7 linked regions of the Homo sapiens genome follow. The protein of the gene in region 3 interacts with the protein of the main gene of each other region in a pairwise test. Each region holds a gene or a part of one and is shown on either strand. Other genes may lie near its edges.

What was found.
Region 1: the proteins of ZHX1 (region 3) and LAMA4 interact in a two-hybrid assay, tested with the Homo sapiens proteins (one large-scale study listed by BioGRID and IntAct).
Region 2: the proteins of ZHX1 (region 3) and PNP interact in a two-hybrid assay, tested with the Homo sapiens proteins (one large-scale study listed by BioGRID and IntAct).
Region 4: the proteins of ZHX1 (region 3) and LYAR interact in a two-hybrid assay, tested with the Homo sapiens proteins (one large-scale study listed by BioGRID and IntAct).
Region 5: the proteins of ZHX1 (region 3) and SERPINB9 interact in a two-hybrid assay, tested with the Homo sapiens proteins (one large-scale study listed by BioGRID and IntAct).
Region 6: the proteins of ZHX1 (region 3) and WDR33 interact in a two-hybrid assay, tested with the Homo sapiens proteins (one large-scale study listed by BioGRID and IntAct).
Region 7: the proteins of ZHX1 (region 3) and PIAS4 interact in a two-hybrid assay, tested with the Homo sapiens proteins (one large-scale study listed by BioGRID and IntAct).

The regions. Positions count from the first base shown.
Region 1 is NC_000006.12:112,247,880-112,252,021, forward strand, and holds part of LAMA4 (laminin subunit alpha-4 isoform 1 precursor), read right to left. Parts: intron 1-4,142. UniProt on the Homo sapiens protein: Binding to cells via a high affinity receptor, laminin is thought to mediate the attachment, migration and organization of cells into tissues during embryonic development by interacting with other extracellular matrix components.
Region 2 is NC_000014.9:20,472,406-20,475,639, reverse strand, and holds part of PNP (purine nucleoside phosphorylase), read right to left. Parts: coding exon 3,163-3,234; intron 1,169-3,162; coding exon 1,065-1,168; intron 868-1,064; coding exon 692-867; intron 579-691; coding exon 388-578; intron 1-387. UniProt on the Homo sapiens protein: Catalyzes the phosphorolytic breakdown of the N-glycosidic bond in the beta-(deoxy)ribonucleoside molecules, with the formation of the corresponding free purine bases and pentose-1-phosphate.
Region 3 is NC_000008.11:123,264,116-123,268,257, forward strand, and holds part of ZHX1 (zinc fingers and homeoboxes protein 1), read right to left. Parts: intron 3,272-4,142; 5' UTR 3,179-3,271; coding exon of another isoform or gene 3,158-3,178; intron 2,631-3,157; exon of another isoform or gene 2,527-2,630; intron 1-2,526. Other genes in the region: ZHX1-C8orf76 (zinc fingers and homeoboxes protein 1), read right to left, coding at 3,158-3,178. UniProt on the Homo sapiens protein: Acts as a transcriptional repressor. Increases DNMT3B-mediated repressive transcriptional activity when DNMT3B is tethered to DNA. May link molecule between DNMT3B and other co-repressor proteins.
Region 4 is NC_000004.12:4,276,166-4,280,307, forward strand, and holds part of LYAR (cell growth-regulating nucleolar protein), read right to left. Parts: intron 3,585-4,142; coding exon 3,477-3,584; intron 3,366-3,476; coding exon 3,282-3,365; intron 1-3,281. UniProt on the Homo sapiens protein: Plays a role in the maintenance of the appropriate processing of 47S/45S pre-rRNA to 32S/30S pre-rRNAs and their subsequent processing to produce 18S and 28S rRNAs. Also acts at the level of transcription regulation.
Region 5 is NC_000006.12:2,892,779-2,896,920, forward strand, and holds part of SERPINB9 (serpin B9), read right to left. Parts: intron 3,413-4,142; coding exon 3,275-3,412; intron 2,731-3,274; coding exon 2,613-2,730; intron 776-2,612; coding exon 633-775; intron 1-632. UniProt on the Homo sapiens protein: Granzyme B inhibitor.
Region 6 is NC_000002.12:127,720,475-127,724,616, reverse strand, and holds part of WDR33 (pre-mRNA 3' end processing protein WDR33), read left to right. Parts: intron 1-173; coding exon 174-284; intron 285-1,269; coding exon 1,270-1,364; intron 1,365-1,572; coding exon 1,573-1,659; intron 1,660-1,886; coding exon 1,887-2,026; intron 2,027-2,628; coding exon 2,629-2,781; intron 2,782-4,142. UniProt on the Homo sapiens protein: Essential for both cleavage and polyadenylation of pre-mRNA 3' ends.
Region 7 is NC_000019.10:4,028,114-4,032,255, reverse strand, and holds part of PIAS4 (E3 SUMO-protein ligase PIAS4), read right to left. Parts: intron 4,111-4,142; coding exon 4,069-4,110; exon of another isoform or gene 4,067-4,068; coding exon of another isoform or gene 4,059-4,066; intron 3,747-4,058; coding exon 3,656-3,746; intron 3,537-3,655; coding exon 3,408-3,536; intron 3,326-3,407; coding exon 3,220-3,325; intron 1-3,219.

The sequences.
Region 1 (4,142 bases), on a different chromosome or scaffold from region 3:
TATAAACAGAGTATTATTCAGTTTTAAAAAGGAATGCAATTCTGACACATGCTACAACATGGGTGAGCCTCAAAGACATTATGCCAAATGAAATAAGCTAGGCACAAAAGGATAAGTACTGCATGATTATGTATATGGAGTATTTAGAGTAGTTAAATTCATAGAGACAAAGTAGAATTGTTGTTGCCAGGGGCTGGAGGAAGGAGTTAATCGGAAGTTATCATTTAATGGGTTTCAGTTTGGGAAAATGAAAAAGTTCTGGAGATTGATGGTGATGGTTTTATAACAATGTGAATATAGTCAATGCCACTGAACTGTGCCCTTAAAAATAGTTCAAATGGCCAGGTGCAGTGGCTCATGCCTGTAATCCCAGCACTTTGGGAGGCCGAGGCAGGCAGATCACAAGGTCAGGAGATTGAGACCATCCTGGCTAACACGGTGAAACCCGTCTCTACTAAAAATACAAAAAATTAGCCAGGCATGGTGGCACACGCTTGTAGTCCCAGCTACTCGGGAGGCTGATGCAGGAGAATTGCTTGAACCCGGGAGGCAGAGGTTGCAGCGAGCCAAGATAGCACCACTGTACTCCAGCCTGGGTGACAGAGGGAGACTCTGTCTCAAAAAAAAAAAAAAAAAAAGTTCAAATGGCAAAGTTTCTGTTATTTTTATTTTATCATGTTAAAAGAAAAGACTTCCTCTGGTTAAATCAGAGAACCCTGGAACACTAGGGAATGGAATTCTTTACTTTTTAGCAATGTTATAATAAATTCCATAACATAGACCAGGTATTCCATAGGTAATACTGTTATGAATTTCCTACTTATTAATCTAAATCAACAGCTTTTAAGATAGACTGTAGCATCACGTGGAGGACACACCCTAGAATATCATTATAAAGAGAAAATAGGATAAGGAGACTCTATAGTTGAAAAAAAAAGTGCTCTATCAGGAAGACTCCCTGGTATACAGAAAGCAGAGAAAGGAATATGAAAATTTGGTTAAGGTAATTACCACTCTTAAATGTCAATGAACTCATCTGTAAAATGGGTATAATTTTCACTATTTAGTATTAAGACAATTCATGGAGGTTGATGGGACATAGTAGAAGTCAACAAGTATTAGTTTTTTTCTTTCTTACGTGAGTAGTTTTAAAAAGTAGTCATTAGGCTAGACGGAGAAGGGAAGTTATCTCAACTTTTTGTAACTTATGCTACTCATCTAACAAGCACTGCAAAAATGGTCTTTAAATTGCATTTTATATTTCTTCATTTAAAGAAATTCCCAGCAGGGTGCGGTGGCTCACGCCTGTAATCCCAGCACTTTGGGAGGCCGAGGCGGGTGGATCATAAGGTCAGGTGATAGAGACTATCTTGGCCAACATGGTGAAACCCTGTCTCTACTAAAATACGAAAAATTAGTTGGGCGTTGTGGCATGTGCCTGTAATCCCAGCTACTTGGGAGGCTGAGGCAGGGGAATCGCTTTAACTCAGGAGGCAGGGGTTGCAGTGAGCTGAGATCAAGCCACTGCACTCCAGACAGGCAATAGAGCAAGACTCTGTTTCAAAAAAAAAAAAAAAAAAAAAAAAAAGGAATTCCCAAAACTTTGACTAGAAGTATTCCTATATATATTTCTATTTACCTAATCACCTCTTCCTAGCTACTTTTGCACAGTTGAACTGCTTTTATAAACTCCTTCCTAGCTGTGCTGCTTACAAGCAGGGGCCTGGGCAAATGCTCTGTGCCTCGGTTTCTATGTGTATCAAATGAGATAATAACGATACCAGTCACATTGATTTGTCATGAAAGTTACTGGAAATTACTCATGGGAAGTGTTTACATCAGTATCGGCATGTGGTAAGTACTCAACGAGTATCAGCTATGAGCCATACTATTATTGCTATTACCACCACTGCTATATTCCAGTTCTTCTAAAATAAGGTTTTTGAAGCCTATTTTGGTGTTTGGCAAGTAAGTTTTGTGCCCTACTGGTCTAGCACAGGAATAATACTTTTTTCACATTACCTCCATGGCACTTACCTTGTAGCCACTCTTATAGAATGTTAGTACATTGTTCTGTATATAATGGCCACTTATTTTTTTTCTCTCTTCAATTGCTCACCCCTGAGGGCAAAGATGAGACTATACCTTCTTTCTATTGCTCCTTGTACCTATTTTATTGCTCTTTCGAGGTAAGGCTCCAAACCAGCTTGTTGGGTGAATAAATGAATGAAATAATGACTGCATGTAAGGGGTTCAGATTACCTAATTGAATTGTTGGAACAGCAATGTAGAGTGATAACCCAGGCTAGCAACTGGAGGTCTTAGTGTGATCTCAAGGGACCTTTTTCAAAGCAAGTGACCAAGATAAGAAAAAAGAAAGCAGATGGTTAAAGAGATCTAAAATGTTTTTATTAAACATTCTGCAATCTTTTAATGGCAGGACCCTAACAATGTGCTGGGACATGGGGTCACGTATCAACAAGGAAAAAAGTCAAGAGGAAAAGTCCCTCAGAGTTAGTCTGCTTTATAGAGTTTCTTTTTAGCAAGTCAGTTTTTCCAGTGTAAGGTATGTTCATGGGCACTGATCTTCTTGGAGTGAAGTTAACACAACAATAATGACAACAATAGCAAAACTGAGGTTTCTAGGAGAGAAATTCCTCTTTTCCCCTCTGAGGGGCAACTCATTGACAACTCAATGTTGTCAATTGTATCCCTTATTCTATCATTTATCTGTGAAAGCCAGTAATAGCACCGTCACCTCCTCCACCACCTTCCACCTTGCCCTGTCAGAAGAGTCCTTGCCTTCTCAGTTTCTCAGTCTCTGTGTGGCTTCTTTCCAGCCACACAATGTAACCTCCAACCTCATGTTCTTGACCTTGTTTAGTTCCTACTTCTTTTTGATGGACAAGAATCTCATTCTTCCTAAGGACATTCTGTTACTGGCTTCTTGTGGGGGTGTTCCCATCTTCATTCCTGCCCCCACACCAGTTCTTTTCCATATCTACCATATCTATATTGGTCAAGAAGAGTTTGGCCTAGTTTTTCCTGCTATAGTGTGTGTGGTGGAATGAATAGACTTTCTTTTCCTTAATGTGAAATATTAGAATACTGATTATCATTATTGAAACTGCCCAGTCTTCCCTTTTGAGAATCACCTGTTGAGAATCACTGTTCTCACCATAAACTCAGCAATAAAGGACTCAGTAGATTAAGTGTCAAGAAGCAAAGGTGGGAAAATCCTCCCCACAACTAGTACGGAGTTACCCACAGGTGCTCTTCTTTTCAAATACTTTGCATCTGGGGGGAAGCTTTGGCTTGTTTTACAAGGAAAAGAGGAGACTTCCTTTTTGGTCAGCCAACAATCTCTATCCTTTTATTCCGTGCATATTTCATGTATTTGTTCCCCAGCTCACATGGAGCAATACAGCATGCCAGAGTTTGTGTCTTGGGCCAAGTACTCAGGGATGGAGAGTCCACAAGCTGGGCTATTGAAGAGCTTAGGAGAACCTCAGGAAGGCCTTCAGCCAAGCACCTCCCACTGCTCCATGCTTGCCTTAATATTTTTCTTCATTCCCTCTGAAGGAGAATTGCAGAATAACCATTCATATAAATCCAAGTAAAGAGAATGTATTTTTAGAATATCTTCCCATCCACACATTGAACCTCTCCCATGAATAATGTGTCCGTGTTCTCTTTCTCTCTCCACATATACACAAATACAGTCTCCTGAGCCAACCCAGTAAAGTGTTTGTACCATGTTATTAAGTCTCCGGAATGTATTTGGTTTAAGGTCTGGTTACTGCTATAAAGAGCATGGGAAACCTGATGGTGGGGCGTTGGGATCGCCATGGGACCGCAGGCTAACTGGAGGCATTATGTGAAACTATGCAGTGGGAACATAATTACCTCAATCTCACCCTTTCTACACCATATACTTTGACCTTCCTGGAATGACTAATATCTTCTTTCTGTTTTTCAAAACTGAAGGCCTCCACTGGCATTCTGAACCTATTAGACTCTGACATTACTACAAATTTAATTCACTACGTGACATTTTTTTTCCAGCTGGAAGAATATAGATAAACAGATATAATAATATTAAGTAAAAGAAAACCATAAACATAAGGTTCTAAGGAATATTC
Region 2 (3,234 bases), on a different chromosome or scaffold from region 3:
GGTGGCACACGTCTGTAATCCCAGCTACTCGGAAGGCTGAGGCATGAGAATTGCTTGAACCCGGGAGGCGGAGGTTGCAGTGAGCCGAGATCATGCCACTGCACTCCAGCCTGGGCAACACAGCGACATTCCGTCTCAAAAAACAGTCATCAAATCATGGATAGATCATTCATTAGCACTGCAGCTGTTAACCCCTTGGTGCTTCGTAGGGAGATTTGATGCTACACCAAATCTCACCAGTTTGTATTTCAATAAGTCAGTTTAATTCACCCTTCCCTGAAATCAGATCCTCTCAGTCCAATGAGGCCTGTTATTTCCTACTCCTTCCCCTTCCCATTTTGCTAAACCCCTCCCTCTTCAAGCTTCCAGCCAAATTCCCCTTCTCACCAACAGCGTCTGCTCCCAGCTTCTGCAGCACACGACATTCTGCCACAGTCTCAAAGCTGGGGCCTGCCACCATCACATAGGTGCCTTCCTGTAGCTCACGTTGCTCCCCCATTTGTTTCCAGGTACTGAGAGCCCTCTGCCTCATAGTCCGGTCGTAGGCATCAGACATGGCAGGGAAACGATCTCCAAACCTAGGACACAGGTTGAATTATCTCACATAAACGGAATTTTAAAAATTCTCCCACAGCTCCTAGAGAAGTCTTTAAATCCTACCCACCTAAAAAAAACGGAGTAACATACATACCTTTCATCATTGGGCCCTCTGAGAGGGTTCTGACCACTGAAACCAGGTAGGTTGATATGGTCACGGATCAGCATGATATCTCCAACCTCAAACTTGGGGTTCAGCCCTCCTGCTGCATTGGTGACTACCAGGGTGTCCACACCCAGAAGGTGGAAAACCCTCACTGGGAATGTCACCTTCGAAGCAAACAATCCGAAAAAAATTTACAAAATTTCATTAATTCAGCTACACTGAAATGCATGACATACATCGTGAAAGAAAAGGAAGGAGAGGACCAAAAATCCACCTAGCCCAGATAGCTAGGTAGTGAAAGAGGCTAGATAGTTCTCTCCTGCCTCTTCCAGATCCAACCGGACCTATCCCTCTGACTTACCTTCCAGAGTGGGTACCCTTCATACATGTGGAACCTGCCCTGCATCATCACACAGGCCCTGCCATTCAGGAACCCAAACACCAGTCGGCCAGCATGACCTGGCACTGTATACAAAACAGAAAGAGAAATGAATGGGATTATATTTTCATGCAACACATATCCATTAAGCACCTACTGTGAGTTACTCGCTCTGCTCAAAATGTTAGGTTGTAATTAAGTAAAAGACTCATTATTATCTCTGCTTTCAGAAAGTTTAAGTCTGGTGAGAGAGCCAGGCATTACTAATAATTATACAAATACAACCCAAGATTAGAGATATGGGGTGCGTTCAGCATGTTCAGCATGAACACACAAAGAAGGAAGGGCTTTTTAAAGAAATTTCAAGATAATACAAGCCATACTGCCAGAGAGTAAAAAGTGAGCAAAAAAAGTAGATACTCAGAAATGGAAGATTAAATACTACATGTTCTCACTTATAAGTGGGAACCAAATGTGTACATATGGACCTACAGAGTGAAATAATAGACACTGGGGACTCGGAAAGGTGAGAAAGTGGGATGGGGATGAGGGATGAGAAATTACCTAATAAGTACAATGTTCACTGCTCAGGTGATGGTTACACTAAAGCACAGACGTCACCACCACGCAGTATATCCATATAACAAAACTGCATTGTACCCCTGTAAATCTATAAAAATTAAAATTAAAAATAGGCCAGGTGCGGTGTCTCACACCTGTAGTCCCAGCACTTCGGGAGCCCAAGACAGGCGGATCAACAGGCCAGGAGTTCAAGACCACCCTGGCCAACATGGTGAAACCTCATCTCTACTAAAAATACAAAAATTAGCCAGGTGTGGTGGCACATGCCTGTAATCCCAGCTACTCGGGAGGCTGAGGTGGGAGAATCTCTTGAACTTGGGAGGTGGAGGTTGCAGTGAGCCGAGATCACAACACTACACTCGAGCCTGGGTGACAGAGCGAGACTCTGTTTCAAAATAAAGTGAGTACAGTGAATGCAGTAATTATAGACCTCTTCAAATTTTTCAAAGTTCTCAAAACATGTATTCTTATCTATTGCCCTAACTTAATTACCTGCCTCCTCAGTCCAGCAAGCAAGCTCATAGTATACTTACTCTGGCTTCTTAAAGAAGAGGCTACTGAACAAGGGGGAAAGAATTTGAACGCATGCAAGTGTCTCTTTCCTTATGACCCACGGAACAGTCCTATGGGAACACATGCCCACGGAGGGGTGCGTGGGAGTGCAAAGATAACTCCCCACAGACATAACAGCCATTATTACCATTTCTTTTATCTGGCAGTCACTTCTAATAGACGGCCAACCTATCCCTTAGGGAATGGGAGAGGGACTAGAACCAAGAGGAAGAGCTGAGAAATTCTCAAAGATAGAGGAGCTTATGCAAAAAAACAAAACAAAAACAGTAATAAAGTTGACAAAGGAAACCCAAGTGGAGTATAAAAAATAAACATGTTGATAAGCTTAAAAAAACTAACCCACTTATCATTTAATGCAGTGCCCTTCTCACTGGGGGTAGGAGTGGCCAGTGGAGCCAGCGTCACTACTATCTCCCTTAGAGAAGTATGCCCTTCACACACCCTCTGTTAATATTTCCCTCACCTTCTCCCTCTGCTCTTCCAGTCTTGTGTTAAAGAGTTTAAAAAAATAGCTATTAAAGGTCTTTTCCTGCTGACAGGTCTTAAAAAAAAATTCTTAACTCTCCAGGGAAAAGAAGATAGAAATCTTAAAAATTAATAAATAAACCAACAGAAGTTAGTTATTTGAGAAATTACGTAAACCAAATAAACAACCCTTGCCCTTTACTTGGCCCCTGTCACCTGGCCCTCTTCTGAGTCTTAGCCTCAGTCCACTGACACACACATGTCCTGTCTCTTATGGGATGTCTGCTAGAGGCATCTCCTAAAGTCACTCTGACTCATGGTGGGCTTTTCTCCTCTCTTACAACATTTGTCTTCAGTGAAATGCTAGGTCAAGGAGTAGAAACATTGGCCTCCTTGGTTGTGTTCCACAGAATTCCAAGAACATCCCTCAGTCCCATTCCCCACTTTCCCTTGCCAGTACCTGTACTTCGGGGAAAGTTGGGGATTTCACCGTAGTCAAAGATCTGGGCCTGAGTTAATTTATCAGTCAGAC
Region 3 (4,142 bases):
GTATATTTAAATCTGTGAATTAAGAGTAAAACAAGGGAGATAAAACATTCAAAGAATGATTTTGGCAGTGAAATTCAGGAGAAAAGGGTATAGTTATTATAAAGACAGCAAATGCAAATTTGCACTTAGAATCATTACTTCTCTGTTTTATGAGAAAACTATACTTTAACAGTGTTCTACTACATTTTAAAAAAGATTAAAAATAAGTCCTCAATGTAATACACTATAAGAAGTTAGTGGATTGTTTCAAATTCTATGCTTACCCACTACTAAAAAAAAGTCTAAAATATTTTATAATTAAACAGAGCCACAACTGCACTGAATTTGCAAGCTTCTGGTTTTTCTGGCTGTTTGGACTTCAAATTAAATGATTAACAGATAACAATATGTTGGCCTGGTTAGCCACAAAAGCATGCTATTTGGTAAGATTTTACATGAATAAAAACAAACTTTTTTTTCTTGAGACGGAGTCCCACTCTGTTGCCCAGGCTGGAGTGCACTGGGGCAATCTCGGCTCACTGCAACCGCCGCCTCCCAGGTTCAAGCAATTCTCTGCCTCAGCCTCCCAAGTAGTTGGGATTACAGGCGCCCGCCACCACGCCTGGCTAATTTTTGTATTTTTTTTAGTAGAGACGGGGTTTCACCATCTTGTCCAGGCTGGTCTTGAACTCCTGACATCATAATCCACCCGCCTCGGCCTCCCAAAGTGCTGGGATTACAGGCATGACCCACTGTGCCTGGCCACAAACTTTGTTTTTTACAACAATTCTGGGTCAAATAAGAGCATTTAGGGCTGAGTGAGGTGGCTCACGCATGTAATCCCAGCACTTTGGGAGGCCGAGGCGGGTGGATCACCTGAGGTCAGGAGTTTGAGACCAGCCTGGCCAACATGGTGAAACCCTGTCTCTACTAAAAATACAAAAATTAGCCCGGCGTCGTGGCGTGCACTTATAATTCCAGCTACTCGGGAGGTTGAGGCAGGAGAATCGCTTGAACCTGGGAGAAGAAGGTTGCAGTAAGCCGAGATTGCGCCATTGCACTCCAGCCTGGATGATAAGAGCACAACTCTGTCTCAAAAAAAAAAAAAAAAGAGCATTTAGAAGATACTATAGTTTTTAGGGATCATGTTAATTTTGATGTAGCATCAAAAATAAAACTGTTCTTAGGTAGCAAAAATATACACACTGAGAATCCCTTGGAATCTGCATTTGTATATATACCGAGAATGTTTGGGACTCTGTATTCTATTTAGTTTCACTTCTCTCTGAGTCAAGAGTTCTGTTTAGCCAGCTGAAAATACTTTAACACGTTTGTATTCAACTAGAAGTTACAAATCCACAAAAATCACGGAATGCCTAAACAGTACAAACAAAGAATTAGGTCATATTAAAACAAAAGGTATCCACCGTGTTAAAAAAAATAAAGGTGATTTTATACAATTAAGGTATTTTCAAAGTTAAAATGTAAAAATAAAAATAAAATGTTAAAACATTTAGAAACATCAAGTTCTTAAAAAATTAAATTAGGAATTTGACAACACAAATTTACATCCACAGCAAATGTTTTTAAAGATTGCTGGTAACCTACAATCATGACCTGAGAGATAAGTCTCAAGAAAACTGTAAAAAATAGTCTCAAGACAATAGAAAATCAAGTATTAAAGTGAATATACAAACAGGAATAAAAATAATAAAAGTGAAAGCATCTAAGAAATTGTGGTCAAAGATAATCAAATGTCAGAGGATACCTTTGCTAATGCTAATTAAGGCTGAAAGGTAAGAAACCCTATCCTCTCTATCTGTTTTTTTCCATCTGAGAAAGCAGACCTTAATGACACTAAAGATTAAAAGAAGAATCCAAATCGGACAGATTTTTTTCTGGCAAGCTCTGACCACAGATTTGCGGGAGTGAAATGTCTTTTTGAAAGGTCTCTCCCTAGGACACTAACATCCTAGTTTTCTCCCCACAGCTGGCAGGTAGGTAGGTAAGTACGTAATACATTGAAAGTGATATATAAACTAGCAGTATCATGAAATCTCTTATCTTGTGAAGAGTTTGTGAATGTGATCGAAAAGTCATTTTCTACTGAAAACAATTTTTCCCTACTTTTCTCAAGAAGGTGTGTTAAGTCTTTTACAGCCAGTCTAACACAAGAATGCTATTCTCAGTTCCAAGTGAGATTACCTTTGAAGACTGAAAAACCATTCATCTGGTCATTATCTTCCCTATTTATAATGGTAAGGTAACTGTTACCCACTTCACTGAGGATATAATGATTTGATTTTTCAAAATACTTTGAAAGATAATAGTAATCAGTATTGGTAATATCAACTTATAAGAACTCTGTTATCCATTTTTTAAAAATGAAAACTGCCACATTAATGTTTATCAAATCTTTCCTAGTATTTTCTGGAATCATCTAAAATAACAATAGGACAAATGCTTCTTATAAAAGCCAATTAATTAATCAGATAAAATATAAAAACAATTATGTACAAATACATTCAAATATATATATATTTTTTACGTCACACAGGTAATGTGCCAGTGTCATAACAAGGTTTGAGAAAGGCACATTTCACACATAAGCATGAAAACCCAATCATCACACTTAAGAACTACAAAAGGATCAATATTCAAATATTTAAGTTTTGGTATGGTTAATATAAGTAAGAGTATTTAATTAATATCCTGACTCTTATAATTAACTATTATTAGTAGCCTACGTTTTGAAAATACAGTTTCAGAATTTGTTCTTGTACATCCTGAAGCATTTTTCTGGATATAGGCAAAAGCATAGCAAAATTTCTAGATCAATTTCCCCATACCAAAGGTACATTTTGTCTTGTTTACCTCTGTTATCACAGCACTTGGTATAGTGCCTGACACAGCAGATTTTATCAAATACTAATTTTAAAATCAATTATAAATATACAAGATTTATTATGAAGTATGATGCCGTCTCCTTTTAAATTAAAGCAGTCCTATACTTATAGCTCTTAAAATTTGAAAGTATATTAAAAAAAAGTGTTAAGCATATGTCTGCTGCTTTTTAAGGAAAGCTTTTAAAAACTTTAGACAAATATAGTATCATGGGATCTAAAGTGAGTACATTCAGTATCTGAGTTTTACCATACCAAAACAATGAAACACATACTTGCCACAGCTTCCTTAGCATTCTGTTCTTTGAAATGGAAGGGTATCCCTTCTAGTTAGATGTTTAGCTCAGGCCATCATTACCAACAGGTCCAAAGCAGCAGTCTGTCTTCTCCTACAAAAAAGTCATATTTTATTATTCTAGATATAATTTAGCCTTAGTCAGGAAATTTTTACAATTTAATGCCTTAGCTTTTAATAAATAAATGTAATTTTGAAAAAAAAAGTTTATTCCCTCATCAAAACTTTAAAAGAACCATTTAAATACCAATCCTAATATTGGTAGTAAACACAAAAACTACACATTAAAAAAACTCTATTTATATCATATAGAACAACTAAATAACTATTAGACCATTTTGAATAAAATTTCAAAACGTGAATATATGCCGTCTCTAGTGTGAAAATTGAGATGCAGAAATTGGGAGTTCTTTAAAATGAGTATACCGGCCGGGCGCGGTGGCTCACACCTGTAATCCCAGCACTTCGGGAGGCCAAGGCCGGCGGATCACCTGAGGTTGGGAGTTTGAGACCAGTCTGACCAACAAGGAGAAACCCCGTCTCTACTAAAAATACAAAATTAGCTGGGCGTGGTGGCGCATGCCTGTAATCCCAGCTACTCGGGAAGCTGAGGCAGGAGAATCGCTTGAACCGGGGAGGCAGAGGTTGCAGTGAGCCGAGATTGCGCCATTGCACCCCAGTCTGGGCAACAAGAGCGAAACTCTGACTCTAAATAAATAAATAAATAAATAAGTATACAAAGGTTATGAAGACAATTTAGTTAAACTAAGAAATGGGAGTAGTTGTATATGTTTATGTGTTAGTACATAAACCTAGTGATATTTGTATCCTAATTTATTATGTTAATCAGAATGGAGAGGATTATTAATGCTGACAACACAAGCCAAAACAAGTTAAACAAACTAGTAGTACTTGATCTACAAACATGGGGTTATCTAACAAAATGACTGGTGTTTAGCCATGTC
Region 4 (4,142 bases), on a different chromosome or scaffold from region 3:
GTGGCCAGTGGCTGCTTCCAGGTGTGAGAAACCACTGAGCTGATGCACCTGCAGGCGGGGGTTCAAATTCCGTCTCTGTTAGTCTAGCCAAAGGACAGGGTAAGTTACCTACAGTCTTCCTCCTTTGGGAGATTGTGGGTAGCAAGGACTATGTCCTCAAAACTGGACCAAATAAAAAAGGACAAGCTTTCACTAGAGTGCAAGGACTCAGGACTCAGACCTTAAGGCTCGATCCTTGGCTACAAGAGCAGCATTAGAAAATGGATACTGGGGAGGCTGAGGCAGGAGAATCACTTGAACCCGGAAGGTGGAGGTTGCAGTGAGCCAAGATCACGCCACTGCACTCCAGCCTGGGTGACAAGAATGAAACTCTGTCTCAAAAAAAAAAAAAAAGAAAACGGATACTGTAGGCCGGGTGCGGTGGCTCATGCTTGTAATCCCAGCACTTTGGGAGGCCGAGGTAGGGAGATCACCTGAGGTCAGGAGTTTGAGACCAGCCTGGCCAACATGGTGAAACCCTGTCTCTACTAAAAATACAACAATTAGCCAGGCGTGGTGGCAAGCGCCTGTAATCCTAGCTACTCGGGGGGCTGGGACAGGAGAATCACTTGAACCCAGGAGGCAGAGGTTGCTGTGAGCCAAGATCGTGCCACTGTACTCCAGCCTGGGTGACAGAGTGAGACTCCGTCTCAAAAGAAAAGAAAATGGATACTGATGTAACCACCTGGTTTTCTCAGTAGCAGTGGCTTAGCAGCATCAGGTTGTCAAGGCTCATGGGGTAAAGGGCAGAGGAGGATTTCAGAAATAGACTTAGGAAGAAGGGGACAAAGAAACTTCACATCTGTCCTACAATTCTGTCGATATCTTCTAGTAAAATATTATTATCATTATGATTTTTTGAGACTGAGTCTCGCTCTATCACCCAGGCTGGAGTGCAGTGGCACAATATCAGCTCACTGCAACCTCCGCCTCCCAGGTTCAAATGATTCTTGTGCCTCAACCTCCCGAGTAGCTGGGATTCTAGGCGCCTGCCACCACACCCAGCTAATTTTTGTATTTTTAGTAAAGACAGGGTTTCACCATGTTGGTCAGGCTGGTCTCAAACTCCTGACCTCAACTGATCTGCCTGCCTCAGCCTCCCAAAGTGCTGGGATTATAGGCATGAGCCACTGTGCCCGCCATAAAATATTATTTTAACCACTGAGAGCCTGAGACCCTGGCATCCCTTCTACACAATCCAGACCAGATTTTCAGCTGGTGCCTTGCCTCTTTGTCTAAACCAACTCCTCGGCCACAGGGAGAGAGGGAGGGAGGCACACATTTACCCATCTGGTAGCTGCTCAATAAATAGGTGAACCAATTCTTCCCCATCTTCTTTTTACCTCATTACACACTCTCCTCAAATGTGGTCTCCTCTGTGATGCCCTGACTCTTTCCTAATCGAGCACCTCCTTCAGTCCTGGCCTCCCAATGCCTCTGGCTTCTTCCCAGTGCTGATCAGGACCTGACATTACACCATGGACCCGCACGTGGTGCCTATCTCCCCCACTAGAACACAGCTCCAACCAGCCAGGACCTTGGCCTAATTACAGTTGCATCCACAGTGATCAGGTGAACTGTGATGGGGTAGAGGACAGAAAAGCATCCGACCTGACATCTGGCAGAGTTACAGGAGGATAAACAACCAAGGTACGGAGGACAAGGCCTCAGGACCCTCTGCTCTGCACTACAAACACAGGGTATGCTGGGAGGGCCGTGGTGCAAAGGCAGAGGTAAGGGATGACAAGCTGCGTTTCGCAGAGCTCAGGGTTTACCAGGGGCTGTTTACTCCTTATTTTATTTAATGTTTAATATGTTCACACTTCAAAAGGGAAACTGGAAAAAACTTTCTAAAACCCTGCAGTTGAAGCAATTTCAAATCTTTGATTCTTAGTTAAAACAGAAATAACCTTAAAAAATAGATGCCACATAAAGGCCAATCTAATGATCGGTTATACGGTTTCAAAGGGCCAATTTGTACCTTCTGAAAGAGACAAACGCTAGGTGTACTACCGAGATAAATTTTCATCTTGATGCCCACTTGTTGCCGAAAGTATTCTCTCTACATAAGTGAATCAACTCCCGATAATTTGATAAGAATGAAAGACCAGTGGGGTTCTGACCCCACTGTTTTTTGAAACTGATATTTACACAAAAATAAACAATGTAATCAACAATGTGGCTGAAAGATAGCAAACCAAGATTTTCTACATATATAGTCCACATTTAGGGTCTCTATTCAACCATTTTGACTAACAGGTGGCTGATTTAATTACTTGAAGGGAATTCTCCTTCTACCAGAAGGAAGGCGCTTCAAGCACACTGCTCATCTACCTTAACCGTAACCTTCAGAGGCTGCTGTGACCCCCTCACCCCTTATCCAGAGGAACACCTAGTCACTACGTCCTCACCCTGTTTTATTTTCCCTCATGCACCACCACCTGGGATACTTTAGATTTTTTTGTTCAGGTCCTGGCACAGATCAGACACTCAGTTAAGTATTAAATAAATGAATGAATATTACTATCCACATTTTTTTTAGATAAGGAAACTGAGGCTCAGAGGCTAAATAATGTGCCTAAGATCAAACGTCAGGCAAACTGCACAGCAGGGATTTGAACCAGGTCTGTCAGAAATCCAAAGCTCCTGTTCTTTCTTTCCCATGTATCTATCTCCCTGCCTGATTACTAAGCAAATCATTACATACTGGGCTGGCACCAGCATCAAACATTGGGATGAAACATCTTGCTCTTCACAATAAGGAAGTCTCTGCAGTGCATTCAGTTTCTTCCTTTCCATAAATGAAGGCACTAAGAGGTTCTCTAAAAAAGAAGGCTGGGCCAGGTGCGGAGGCTCATGCCTGTAATTCCAGCACTTTGGGAGGCCAACGCAGGCAGGTCACCTGAGGTCAGGAATTCGAGACCAGCCTGCTTAACATGGTGAAACTCTGTCTCTGCTAAAAAAAAAAAATACAAAAAATTAGCTGGGCATGATGGCTCGTGCCTACAGTCCCAGCTACTTGGGAGGCTGAGACACGAGAATTGCTTGAACCCAGAGGCAGAAGTTGCAGTGAGCCACGATCGCACCACTGCACTGCAGCCTGGGCAACAGAGTAAGACTCCATCTCAAAAAAATAAAAATAAAAAAGAAGGCTGCCTTGACTTCCAAAAATAAGAAATTCCCATTTCATTATTACTAATTATTTTTGCCACAATGCAAATCTAAAATCAGATCTGACTTACGCTGTTGGAAGCTTCAGAAAAGATATTCCACACCTGGTCCAGAATGGATTCATTATGAACTTTTAAACTGTTCTTCATCCAATTCTGTAAGAAAGAAAAAGAAAAAGAACTATTGATCCCACTTGGACAGGTACACACAAGCTCAGTCACTGATGGGCCACACGGCCCCCTCCATTCAAGAAAGTCAATTCATACCTGAAATTTTGCCTTTTTCCTGGGAACGTTGTCAAAAGCACTAATTTGCTCTAAAAGTTCTCTCACTTTGGGGCTGACATTGGGTCTCTTTATTAATTCACTAATTTTCTACAAAAAGGGAAGAAAAAAGAAAAACTATTAATAAACAACCAACATGAGTTTCATGAAAGCCAATTGAAAAAGTCCTTGCCATGGCTAAAGCGTTCACGTTTTAAGCCCAGATTCTGTATTTATGTCTATGCTTAAAAATATATAGGTTAACTTCTATTAACATAGTACTGGAGTCCTAGCCAGAGCAGTTAGGCAAGAAAACAAAATAAAAGGCATCCTAACTGCAAAGGATGAAGTAAAATTATCTCTGTTCACAGATGATGTGGTCTTATATGTCAAAAGTCCTAAAGAGTCCACACAAAAATTGTTAGAATAAACAAATCCAGCAAAGTTGCAGGATACAAAATCCACATTCAAAAATCAAGTTGCATTTTATATAACAACCAGAAAGAGAAATTAAGAAAACAATTCCATTTGCAACAGCATCAAAAAGAATAATCAGGAATAAACTTAACTGAAGAGGCAAAAGACTTGTTTACTGAAAACCAAAAAACACTGCTGAAAGAAATTAAAGTAGACACAAATAAATGAAAAACATTCCGTACTCATGGACTG
Region 5 (4,142 bases), on a different chromosome or scaffold from region 3:
AAAATAGTATCTTTTTAGGGGCTGGAAGATTTGGCAAATTATTCTAATGCCTGCCTTAATTAAGTTTTACTTCAATGTCAAAACTAAGGTCTTTGTCATGAAGTTTTAATATTAAAAAGCTGTAAATACTGAATTAATGATAATTAGTTAACAATTCAAATCAAAACTTACTTTAATTTTAAAAATAACTAATTAAAGACACATGTTTTCACCTTCTCTCCCTCTACCCTGCCCTATACTGCCTCTCACTCCCACATATCACACTACCTTAACACTTTTTTTTTTTTTTTTTTGCTTTCTAGCCAAGTAAATTGGGCTTATAGGAAGATCTTTAGTTTCCAAAACTAGGTGGCAGCAATGGTTTATGAGAAATTATCAAAGGCAGTTAAGAGCAGTGATAAAACACTACATATATATATATATATTATATATACGTATATATAATATATATATGCAGCAAATATCTTTTACTCCTTCCGTTTTTTTCTACTGAGTTAAGAAATTCATTCAGAAATACTTTAAGTTTCAAATTCCTTTTGGCTTACGCTTATGTCACTTACACTTTTACAAAGTTAAATCTTTCCATTCAACTTCTTCATCAAACTAGCAGGATTTTAAAAAGCTTCCCCCACCTGGTTTATTTTAAAGGGCATTTCCCTTGTGTATGTTTCGTCAAACGGTTCATTCCACTTTCCTTTGAAGTAGATGGCATTGACAAGAACCAGCCTGGTTTCTGCATCAATTGAGCTACCCGGCAACAACTCTTCAATTTTACCTTTCAAGAAAAGTAGAGACTACATTCAGTTGCTTTTTATAAGAACCTGATGCATTGGATGATCCTGGATCATTAGTTGAGAAGCAAACTTCTGTTTTCAACTTTGCTGAGTTTGGGTTGTTATGTAGAGAAATAAAAACAGCACATATGAGTGGTATTCATGATTACTGACACCTTGAGAACATCCACCAAGTTGAGGATGGTGAAAGATACCTAAGTCACTCGAGGAAAGCAGGTTGGTACAAAGTAGAAAAATTACACCAGGTTGGAGAACAAGACCAGCAGGAAATGTGATAGGCTGAAGGGGTGTTTGTCTCACATGGTTAATTGGAGTGTTTGATCCAACCCTTCATGATCACACCCAGTTCTAACATTCTGTGACTATACATGGACATGTCAGAAGCAACCAGAATGGACGGCTCAAAGCGGGAAGAGCTGACATTGGGCACATGGGGAGTTTCCAGAAGCTTTTGGAGGAGATATTCCTGCTGAATCCCCTCAACAAAGCACTAGGCATCCCTGGAAAAGAGGATGTGGGCAAACAAAGATCACCCCTTCTTTCCCTGGAGATCAAGTGGTACTGTTTCAATGAACTGAGGGCATCCCTGCTAACCCACTGCCTGAAGAGAGCATCCGTGGTAAATACTCCAAGCAGGAATGCGGGAAACAACTGCTGAGACTTTAAGCGAAGAACGTCTCCCATTCTTTACCGTCTCATTTATTCACAGAAATGGAAATGTTCCTGGTGGTACTAAGCATAATTGGCGCAGAGGAGTCTGAATGGTTCATCAGACCATCATTGGTCTTGGAGGCCTAGACTGGAACACGTCACTTTCTGAAATGTAGATGAATAAGGTTCAACCCCAAATGGAGGGTATTTTCAGTCTGTGGAACTGATCAGCCCTGAGAGAGGGTCGGCAGTTAACCAATCAAATGTAGGCTTATCAAGTCAAACTAAAGGAGCTTAAGTGGAAGACATGAAAAGTCAGGAGTGACCTTAGCAGGTAAAGGTAATGGTGATGGAGGTCCCCCAGAACCTAGGAAGAGGCAGCCCAAGTGTATACCTCAGGCAAGATCTGTCCACCAATCTCCTTCTCGCAGAGACAATGGAGTCACCTGACATGTGAATGTTACAGGCCAGGGAGAGTATATTTTAATGCAAGTTATTAAACTGGAAACCTGGCCTGAGATTCTTTTGACATTTGTTTTTTTGTTTGTTTTTTGTTTTTGAGACAGGCTGGAGTTCAGTGGCATGATCTCAGCTCACTACAACTTCTGCCTCCCAGGTTCAAGTGATTCTCATGTCTCAGCCTCCCAAGCAGCTGGGATTACAGGCATGGGCCACCACACCTGGCTAATTTTTGTATTTTTAGTAGAGATGTTGGGCGGGGGGGGGTCCCACCATGTTGGTCAGGCTGGTCTCGAACTCCTGACCTCAAGTGATATGTCCACTTCGGCCTTCTAAATTGCTGGGATTACAGGCGAGAGCCACCGTGGCTGGCCCTCTTTTGACATTTGTATCAGCTACTCTGGTCCTGGGAGAATAGACAAAAGTAAATCTCTGTTGCTGAAAACCTGAATGTCTGATCAGAACCTTTATGAGTCCATCAAGGTTCAGTATGCCAGGAGGCCCTGCCAGTCAACACTACTCTGACCATCTGAAACACCCGTGAAATTAGAGGGGGCGGAGTGGAGAGGTGGAGGTGGGTGAGGAGAGGGAGGAGGGATAGGAGGGAGAGGAGGAGGAGAGAGGATATAAGAGGCGGGAAGGAGGAATAGGAAGAGCCGCAGGAGGAGGACGGGTTGGGAGGAAGGTGCAATAACTTGTCATTCTGACCTTCGGTCTTTTTTGAGACCCAGGTGTTGATGTGTTTCCTGGACTCTTCTGCAGCTCTGATAAAGGAAAGCTCCTTCAGCTCAGCATGGTAGAATTGAAGACAGGATTCCTTAAACGTCTTTGGAGAGAAAAATGTTCAGTGAGGCTGCATTGCTAAATACAAATGTCAGCAAACTTCCAAAAATTCTAAATATGTTATCTTTTTTTAATAAAAAGAATATACATAACTCTTTAAAAGTGATCATATGAAGATATGTTAAAATATCAGAGTTTGTGAATAGGTATGTATTGAACCCTGAATAACCAGAAATGAACTTGAGAATTTTACCTTTCAATTTTACCTTTCAAGAAAAGTAGAGACTACTTTTGCAATACTAATGCAAGGTATAATTATAGAATTGCAGTCTTTAAAAAAAAAAAGAAGTTTAGGCTGGGCGTGGTGGCTCACATCTGTAATCCCAACAGGCAGGAGGATCACTTGAGACCAGGAGTTTAAGACCAGCCTGGGCAACGTAGTGAGACCCCATCTTAGAAAAAAAAATAGTGCAATTTTTTTAAATTGGTTAACATAAATTTCTCAATTTCTCTAGGGTCTTTCTCCCAGACTCTATATCACCAGGTATGTTGAATGCAACTTTTATTGTTCTATTGATTCAACTTACTGAGAGGAACTGACAAGTTTTCTCTCCAAAGAGCCTGTTGGCCGTTCTCAGCAGGTACTGTGTGCCAGCCTTGTTCACTTCAGTGAGAAGCGACTGGAAAGCCCGATGAATGTCTTCCTCTGTGTTTAAAGACAGTGCCTGTTGTGAAAGATAATTTTAAAAGTTATCAAGATAGCTCTTTGATGGCTGGGGAGAGGAGAGAGAGGGGACAGAAAACAGGCGAGTAAAAGATGTAGCCATTCTGCCTGAATGGATCTCGCTTGTTTAAAGATCAGTAACACACAAAAAATGACAAGGGTGAGAAAAGCTCAGAAAAGAGGTTGTGATAAAATCTTGCATCAAAAGGAAAATATAAATGTACCCTAAGTGGTGGGAAAATTACCTCTAAAATTTATAGTGAAAAAAAAAGATGCAGTTAAAAAGTTAAAAGCAGAAAAAATGCATGGAAAAATAGACGGAAATACAATCATCAGAATCCTCAAAAGGAAACAAGGATATTACATGAGCAATGTGATTAATAAGACAATAACACAGTTATTAAAATTGTACCCTATAGGGACTACATGTGTGTATATTAAATATTTCAAAATATATCACACATATTGGGCCATAAGAAAAGTCTCAACATCCCAATACATTCTGAAATACAGAATTATATAGATCATATTCTCTAACTTCAATGTAGTAACAAAAAATCAGCATTATAAATAAAATGCCAACAAAATGAAAATCACCTACAAAATATTACTGAAAACACTTTTCTAAATAATTAACTCTTCAAAGTAAAAATTAAAATACTTTTCTAGGCCAGGCACAGTGGCTCATGCCTATAATCCCAGCACTTTTGGAGGCCAAGGCAGGAGGATTG
Region 6 (4,142 bases), on a different chromosome or scaffold from region 3:
ACTGTCCTTTGGCAATGACAAGCCAATACCCCGAGACATGTGGAATTCACCAGAGTCCAAGTCCAGGCTTTGGTAGCTTCATTTTAAGAGTAACAGAAAATGTCTTTTTTGAGGGGGAGGGAGAAGCTGGGTAACTTTTGTGAACAAATCTTCTCTCTTTGGTGCTGTTGCAGGGTAGAGAAGGAAGTGGGTGGGATGGAGATGGCTCACGAAGGGATGATCTGGAGTCTGGCTTGGCATCCTCTTGGGCATATTCTCTGCTCAGGCTCAAATGACCATACTAGGTAAGCTTTATATTGAAATAGCAAAGCTTTATATGGAGCAACAGGAAATAAATACTGTATGTGTTTATTTTTATTGGTTGATTGATATAGTAATTTATATTCCAACTTATTCTTGGGAATATTTTTGTAGTGGTTTACAAATACTTATATTGCAATAAAGAGATTGGGTATTGAATATGGTTTTGGCTATTCAAATTTTGTTTTGCCTTCTGACTTAAAACAGAAGTTTTCCACTTTTATTTATTTATTTATTTATTTATTTGAGACAGGGTCTCTGTCCAGGCTGGCGTGCAATGGTGCGGTCTCAGCTCACTATAGCCTCAACCTTCCTGGGCTCAGGTGATCCTCCTACCTCAGCCTCCTGAGTAGCTGAGACTATAGGAGCACACCACCACACCTGGCTAATTTTTGCATTTTTTGTAGAGATGGGGTTTCACCATGTTGCCCAGGCTGATGTCAAACTCCTGGGCTTAGGCAATCCTCCTGCCTCAGCCTCCCAAGGTGCTGGGATTACAGGCATGAGCCACCTTGCCCGGCCCCACATTTTATTTTTATTTTTATTATTATTTTAAGAGACAGAGTCTCACTCTGTCACCGAGACTAGAGTTCTGTGGTGAGATCACAGCTCACTGTAGCCTCAAACTCCTGGGCTCAAGCCATCTTCCCGCCTTATCCTCGTGAGTAGCTGAGACTACAGGTGTGTGCCACCACACCCAGCTAACTTTTTAATTTTTATTTTGTAGAGACAGGGTTTCGCTATGTTGCCCAGGCTGGTCTTGGACTCCTGGACTTAATCCTCCTGCCACAGCCTCCCAAAGTGCTGGGATTACAGATGTGAGCCAAAGTGTATGACCTCACATTTTAAATTTGTAGAAGAAACAAATTGTAAAAATGTGTTGTGTTTACCAAGGGTCTGCCTAGTACTGTTTAGTGCCCAAAAAAATAGTGAAGCCATGCTTCTTTTCTCCTTTAATTATTTTTACAGCAAATTCTGGACTCGAAACCGACCAGGTGATAAAATGCGAGATCGATATAATCTAAACCTTTTACCTGGAATGTCTGAAGATGGAGTAGAATATGGTGAGACTCTTGCACATCTGTCCTTCTTTGAAATCTGGTATTCTATTACAGAAGTGTTAGATGTTGGGAAGATTATACAAAATGAATTTTAATTTTATAGTAGATTTATTTATAAATCATCAGTGACATTCATTTTTATAAAGCATTAATTTTATCAGTCGCTACTTTTGTAAATTCTCTATTGACAATGGTGTATTACTATTTATAGATGACCTCGAACCTAATAGCCTGGCAGTAATTCCAGGAATGGGAATACCAGAACAACTAAAATTAGCTATGGAACAAGAACAGATGGGTAAGAGAAGTTACACAGACACATTTAATTTTTACAAATTTTTTCTTGACCCGTTTATGTTCCTGATAAATATATTGAAATACCAAAATGATTTATGTTGAGAAATGTTGATAAAAATTATATAAATGACATAATACTTAAAATCTATTCTTCCAATAATGTGTTCATTGATCAAGTGGCCAATTTCTTTTATTTAAGAGGCAAACCACTTTTCTTTACGGTTACAGGGAAAGATGAATCAAATGAAATTGAAATGACAATTCCAGGTTTAGATTGGGGAATGGAGGAAGTGATGCAAAAGGATCAGAAAAAAGTACCTCAGAAGAAAGTTCCTTATGCAAAACCCATTCCTGCTCAGTTCCAGCAGGTAAGTAAAAGTGACTCCACCTCATCCACGCAGAGAGGTTTTGGTTGGTTAGTTTGAGGTTTCTCTTGGATTATCTCACTGTTGAAGGTGTTTCTGTACTGGAGCATTTTTCCCATGTTCACGTACTCTTAGACATGGTTCTCATCTACTGCTTTGCAGTTGTATTGAGTTTGTTATCAGTCTTCTCTGTTCTGTCCTCACCTGCTTATTATCATCCATGCTATGAGAGGAAATAGAAGAAAGAGGCATGGAGCAGAGGGAGTATGGGAGTATGTTGCTTCTCTTCTCCATTGTTTATCTATCTTGTGCTTTAATTGTCCCCTCAACACAAAGTGCATGTACCCTGTGAAGAGGCTGGCAAGCTTTGCATTCTTAATAACATGCAGTGTCTTGCAGCTTTTATCACCATAGTAATTTCTACCTAGTAATATGTCAGTAAGAATTAGCATGAGTCATGTACTTGAGTCATGGAGAAAAGGTAAAAAGAAATAAAATCGGTTCAGAGGTTAGATTGAGCAGATGACATTGTAGAGTGGTTTTCTCATTCTATCATTGTAATTTTCATACTTAGCGTACATTTTAATATTCTCTTCTTTCCCAAGGCTTGGATGCAAAATAAAGTTCCAATTCCTGCTCCAAATGAGGTGCTGAATGACAGAAAAGAAGACATTAAATTGGAAGAGAAGAAAAAAACACAAGCAGAAATTGAGCAAGAAATGGCTACATTACAATATACTAACCCACAACTTCTGGAGGTGTGTGAAGCTCTGTAGGGGGGAATTCAAGATGATCTAAGAGGGTAGTGGTGACATTTTTATTGATAGGCTCTTAAGGAAAAGGGAAGGGGCTCTCCCATGGTCTGACAAACACCGCCATTTCCTGTTGCTATGCTAGAAGACTAGTTTCCAAAAGAATCCTGTTTCTTAAAATTTTTTAAAATGTGTTATTTATGTATTTTGTTTTATTTATTTTATTTTAGAGACAGAGTCATGCCCTGTCACCCAGGCTGGAATGCAGTGGTGCGATCACGGCTTGCTACAACCTCTGCCTCCCAGGCTCAAGTGATCTTCCCACATTAAGCCTCTTGAGTGGCAGAGACCACAGGCATGCACCATCACGTCTGACTAATTTTTTTTTAAGTGACTTCCTTGAGTCATATCTTGGACTTTTAAAACCCAATTAGGGTCAGGCGTGGTGGCTTACACCTGTAATCCCAGCACTTTGGGAGGCCGAGGCAGACAGATCACCTGAGATCAGGAGTTTGAGACCAGCATGGTCAACATGGTGAAACCCCACCTCTACTGAAAATACAAAAATTAGCTGGGCATGGTGGTGCATGCCTGTGGTCCCAGTGACATGGGCGGCTGAGGCAGGAAAATGGCTTGAACTCCAGAGGCAGAAGTTTCAGTGAGCCGAGATCGTACCACTGCACTCCAGCCTGTGCCACAAAGTGAGACTCTGTCTCAAAAACAACAACAACAACATAAAAAAACTGAATTAGTGGGGCAGTGAGTAGATCTAAGTTAAATATACATTTTTAATAGAAAAGATAAAGCCAACATAGTTTTAATTTGAATTCACCTGTTTATGAAAGAGTTTTTCCTTTTTGTCTGCTCATATAGCAGGTAGCTTGTTCTTATTTTTCTTATCTATGTTAGCTACCAAGAATGATGAATTAGTGGTGAATTATTGGGCTTTCCCTGATCAAGATGGACAAAAATAATCCTGACTAGGCCAGGCACAGTGGCTCACGCCTGTAATCCCAGCACTTTGGGAGGCGAGGCGGGAGGATCAGCTGAACCCAGGAGTTTGAGATCAGCCTGGGCAATATAGCAAGACCCTGTCTCTACAAATAATAATTAGCTGGGTGTGGTGGCATGTGCCTGTAGTCCCAGCTACTCCGGAGGCCGAGGTGGGAGGATCACTTGAGCCCAGGAGGGTGAGGCTGTAGTGAACCACGATCGTACCACTGCATTCCAGCTTGGGGGACAGAAAAAAAAAATAAGGAAAAAAAAATCCTTACTACTGTGTCCCAGGACTTAAAAAGAATGAGAAAGAACCTAAAACTCCTTACAGTGCTTGAGTGTTGCATGGACTCTAATTACCACTGGAGCGT
Region 7 (4,142 bases), on a different chromosome or scaffold from region 3:
CCCAAGTGACTTGGGGTCCAGAGTGATGGTGCCAGCCTGCCCCCCCACTCCCCCCAGCTGTCCTGACGTTCCTCCGCCTGGAAATGCCCCTACCACCCCTTATTGGCCTGAAACACCACTTATCTCTGCCCGCTTGGGAGCCACTTCCTCCTTCCTGACCCCCACCCAGACCCCCAGCCGGGGTGTGGAGCAGTGGGCTCTTCCTTCTCCCGTGGGGACGTGGTGGCAGCCACGTGCTGGCTCCCAGCAGCTCCCCTGCTTGAGCCAAGGCTGCCCCAGCCGCTCACTCCTCAGCTGAGTTTCCATCCTTGGATCCCAGCTCTGGCTACCCGGTGCCCGGGTGGACCCTCAAGCCTGGCAAAGGGGCAGCTAGGAGGGGATGCAGGTGCCCATCTGATTTTAAAGCAAACTCTCCCTCCTTTGTGTATGGAGAGACGTGCGCAGCAGGAAGGGTTCAAGTGAGGCAAAGGTGAGGACTTCCTAGGTGCAGCAAGAAAGAAATCCAGTGACAGAGAGGCTGAGCCTGGGGCCGGCTGTGGGAAGCAGCAGGAGACCCCTTCGGAGAGGAAGCCTGACCCCACAGCCCCCAGCACTGCGGGCTCTGGTCACTGAGGAGTTAAGCCCGGCCCCCACCCCGTGGGCCTAGAAGAGGCCTGCCCGGCCCCAGCCTCCTCCCTCAAGTTGGCCATGTCCCCACAGGCAGGGAAGGTCGGGGGCGGTTGAAAAAAGGGCCCTTTGAGGGAAGAGGGAGGTGGGGCGGGGTAACCCAGGACACAGAACCCTAACTTTGCCACTCTGTGCCTCAGTGTCCCCACTGGTCACACGGGTACATAGCCAGGCCCTCCATCCCCGAGCCTGGAGGAGGCTGGCCAAGGATGCCGGACTCCGTGGAGGGACCCCTCACCCTCCACGTCCTGCTCTGCAGAGGGGGTGCTGCCGGCTATCTTTCCTGACTTGGGGGGCTGGAGTGCACAGGAGGCTTCAACACGATGGGGCTCGCAGGCCCCTGGCAGTGCCAGCACTGCTCCAGGCTTCTGGACACCCAGGCAAGGAGGTGCCCTTTGGTGGTCAGGAACAGGGACCAGAGGCCTGGGCCTGGCTGTGCCAGGAGGGCAGTGCTCATGGGGAACTCTCTGGCCTGGGCACAGGGGCCTGGGCAGCTAGGAGGGGCAGCTGGAAGACCCTCTGGCCCACATTCTGCCAAGGGGCTGGGGTGGTGCCCAGATTCCACCTGAAAACAGCCACCATTCGGGAAGGGGGTGCGAGCAAACCCGGCTGGCCCAGAACCGCCCTCTCGTCAGCCTGGCAGGTGGTCCCAGTCCTCACCCACCTGCCTGACTCCCACTCCCAGCTCCAAATGACTCCAGGTTAGGCCTAGCCTCTCCATAAGACAGGCCTGCAGAGCCCACTGAGGCCTGGGCCCCAAGCATGTGGGGTCCAGAGAGATGTCCAGGTGCCCTCAAGATGGCTCAGATCTATTCTCCTGAAGACAGTGGCCACCAGAGAAGGCCAGCGACTTTCTGAGGCCACACAGCCGCCAGGCAGGGCTAACTGCTGTACGCTGGCTTTGTGCTGCGTGGCTGCTTGGGGTGAGGACTGATTTGCCTACCAGGCTTGGCAGGCTTTTTTTTTTTTTTGAGATGGAGTCTCACACTCTCACCCAGGCTGGAGTGCAGTGGCACGATCTCCGCTCACTGCAAGCTCTGCCTCCTGGGTTCACGCCATTCTCCTGCCTCAGCCTCCCGAGTAGCTGGGACTACAGGTGCCTGCCACCACGCCTGGCTAATTTTTTGTATTTTTAGTAGAGATGGGGTTTCACCATATTAGCCAGGATGGTGTTGCTCTCCTGACCCCATGATCTGCCCGCCTCGGCCTCCCAAAGTGCTGGGATTACAGGTGTGAGCCACTGCGCCTTGCCGGCAGGCTTTCTTTTAAAATTGCTCTGCGTGTCACTTAAAAAAAATTGTTTTCATTGTTACAAGGACAAAAGAGACCAGGTGCGAAAGTGGCCAAGACTGTAATCCCAGCACTTTGGGAGATTGAGGCAGGTGCACTGCTTGAGCTCAGGAGTTTACGACCAGCCTGGGCAACACAGCAAGATTCCATCTCTACGAAACATTAAAAAATTAGTTGGGGCCGGGCGTGGTGGCTCACGCCTGTAATCCCAGCACTTTGGGAGGCCGAGGCAAGCGGATCACGAGGTCAGGAGCTTAAGACCATCCTGGCTAACAAGGTGAAACCCCGTCTCTACTGAAAATACAAAAAATTAGCCGGGCATGGTGGCACATGCCTGTAGTCCCAGCTACTCAGGAGGCTGAGGCAGAAGAATCGCTTGAACCCAGGAGGTAGAGGTTTCAGTGAGCCGAGATCGTGCCATTGCACTCCAGCCTGGGCAACAGAGTGAGACTCTGTCTCAAAAAAAAAAAAAAAAAAAAAAAAAAAAATTAGTTGGGTGTGGTGGTGAACACATGTGGTCCCAAGCTACTCAGGAGGCTGAGGCAGGAGGATGGCTTGAGCCCGAGTTAGAGGCTACAGTGAGCCACGATCCCACCACTGCACTGTAGCCTGGGCGATACACCGAGACACTTTTTTTTTTGAGGTGGAGTCTCGCTCTGCAGCCCAGGCTGGAGTGCAGCGATGCAGTCTCAGCTCACTGCAACCTCTACCTCCCAGAGACCCTGACTCTCTAAAAAAAAAAGAAAAAGAAAAAGAAAAAAGATTAAACGGGGCCTCACCAACGTGAGGTCAGACCGCCGCCGCCCGTCTTCCTCCCACAGCAACTGCCTCCACGACCCTGGCCGTCCGTGACCCGCCAGGTCCCGCAGCACCCTCGGCCCCGCTGAGGCAACGAGAAGGGGCTGCTTAGACCACAGCTCCCTCTGTGCTCCTCTCACCCCTCCCGGCCTCTGTGCTGTCCCGGAATGAGGCTCCAGCTCTTCTGCTGCTTAGACCCCTGTGGGCTGGAGCACCTGGGGCCAGCAACACGAGGTGTGACCCCACAGGCCTCCGCACAGCAGCTCCCACTGCCAAGTGCCCCCTCTGCCATCCGTATCCTCCAGAGACCTCCCCAGCCACAGCCGGGGGGCCATGGACCCCCAGAGTGACAGGCGGCCCCTGATCGATCTCCTCCGGGTGCAGGGCCCCCCGCTTCACCCAGCACAGGGCGGGTTTCCAGGGTGGACTTGGCACCCCTCGGCCGAGGTGGCCTGAGCTGCTCACCCAGTGCCTTGCACAGCTCCGGGTGCTTTACCCCAATGGTCTTCAGCCTCTGCAGCAGCTCCGATGAGGTCAGCTGCCGCACCAGGTACAGGGCCACCGAGTAGCTCTGGGGACAGAAGGAAGGGGTCAGGGCTGGCAGGACGGGGCCGGGGTTGGGGGGCAGGGTGGGCACCCGGGCACGCACTCACCTTGCCGTAGTTCCCCCAGGTGACAGTGATGCGGTTGGTGGCCGAGGACAGGTACATGAGGTGGGTGAGGTTGATGGGGCGGCACGGCCTCTTGGGCTCCACCCCGGGCTTATTGGAGGGGTAGTAGCCCTGCAAGCAGATGGGCCGCTCAGCCTCGAGCCAAGAGCGGCTGGGAAATCCGACGGCCCCCACCCTCCCTCCACGCCCCCCAAACCCGTGCAGCCGACGCGGGGGCGGGGCATGCTCACCGGGACGGAGCAGTAGCTGTGGTTGACCTTCACAGCGATGTTGGGCGGGTACTGGTCCTCCTGAGGGCAGCTGGTGTCTGAGTAACAGATTCTGCAACGACAACAGGGACCATGGGGCGGGGAGGGGGCGCACAGGAGGGACTAGGCTGCTGCGGGGGTACACGAGTGGTAGCCAGGCGGCAGTGATGGGGGCACCGGAGAATGTGACACGGGGGGTATCAGGGCCCCCGGGTGTGGCCTGAGTGGGGGTCGGATGGTGATGTATCCCCAGACAGGGATAGACAGCAGGTGAGGAGAGCTGGGCTCTGCTGTTAGCAGGGGAGACTGAGAAGGGCCTGGGCCAGGACTGGGGGGCGGGGAGGGGCGGGTGGCTGGGGGTCCAGCCCTGGGGTCGCGGGCACACCTGGGCATACCTCAGGACGACCTGCACGGCTTTAACTCCGGGCTGCAGTTCCCTGTGGGTGTGGAGCAAACCAGAGGAAAGGAA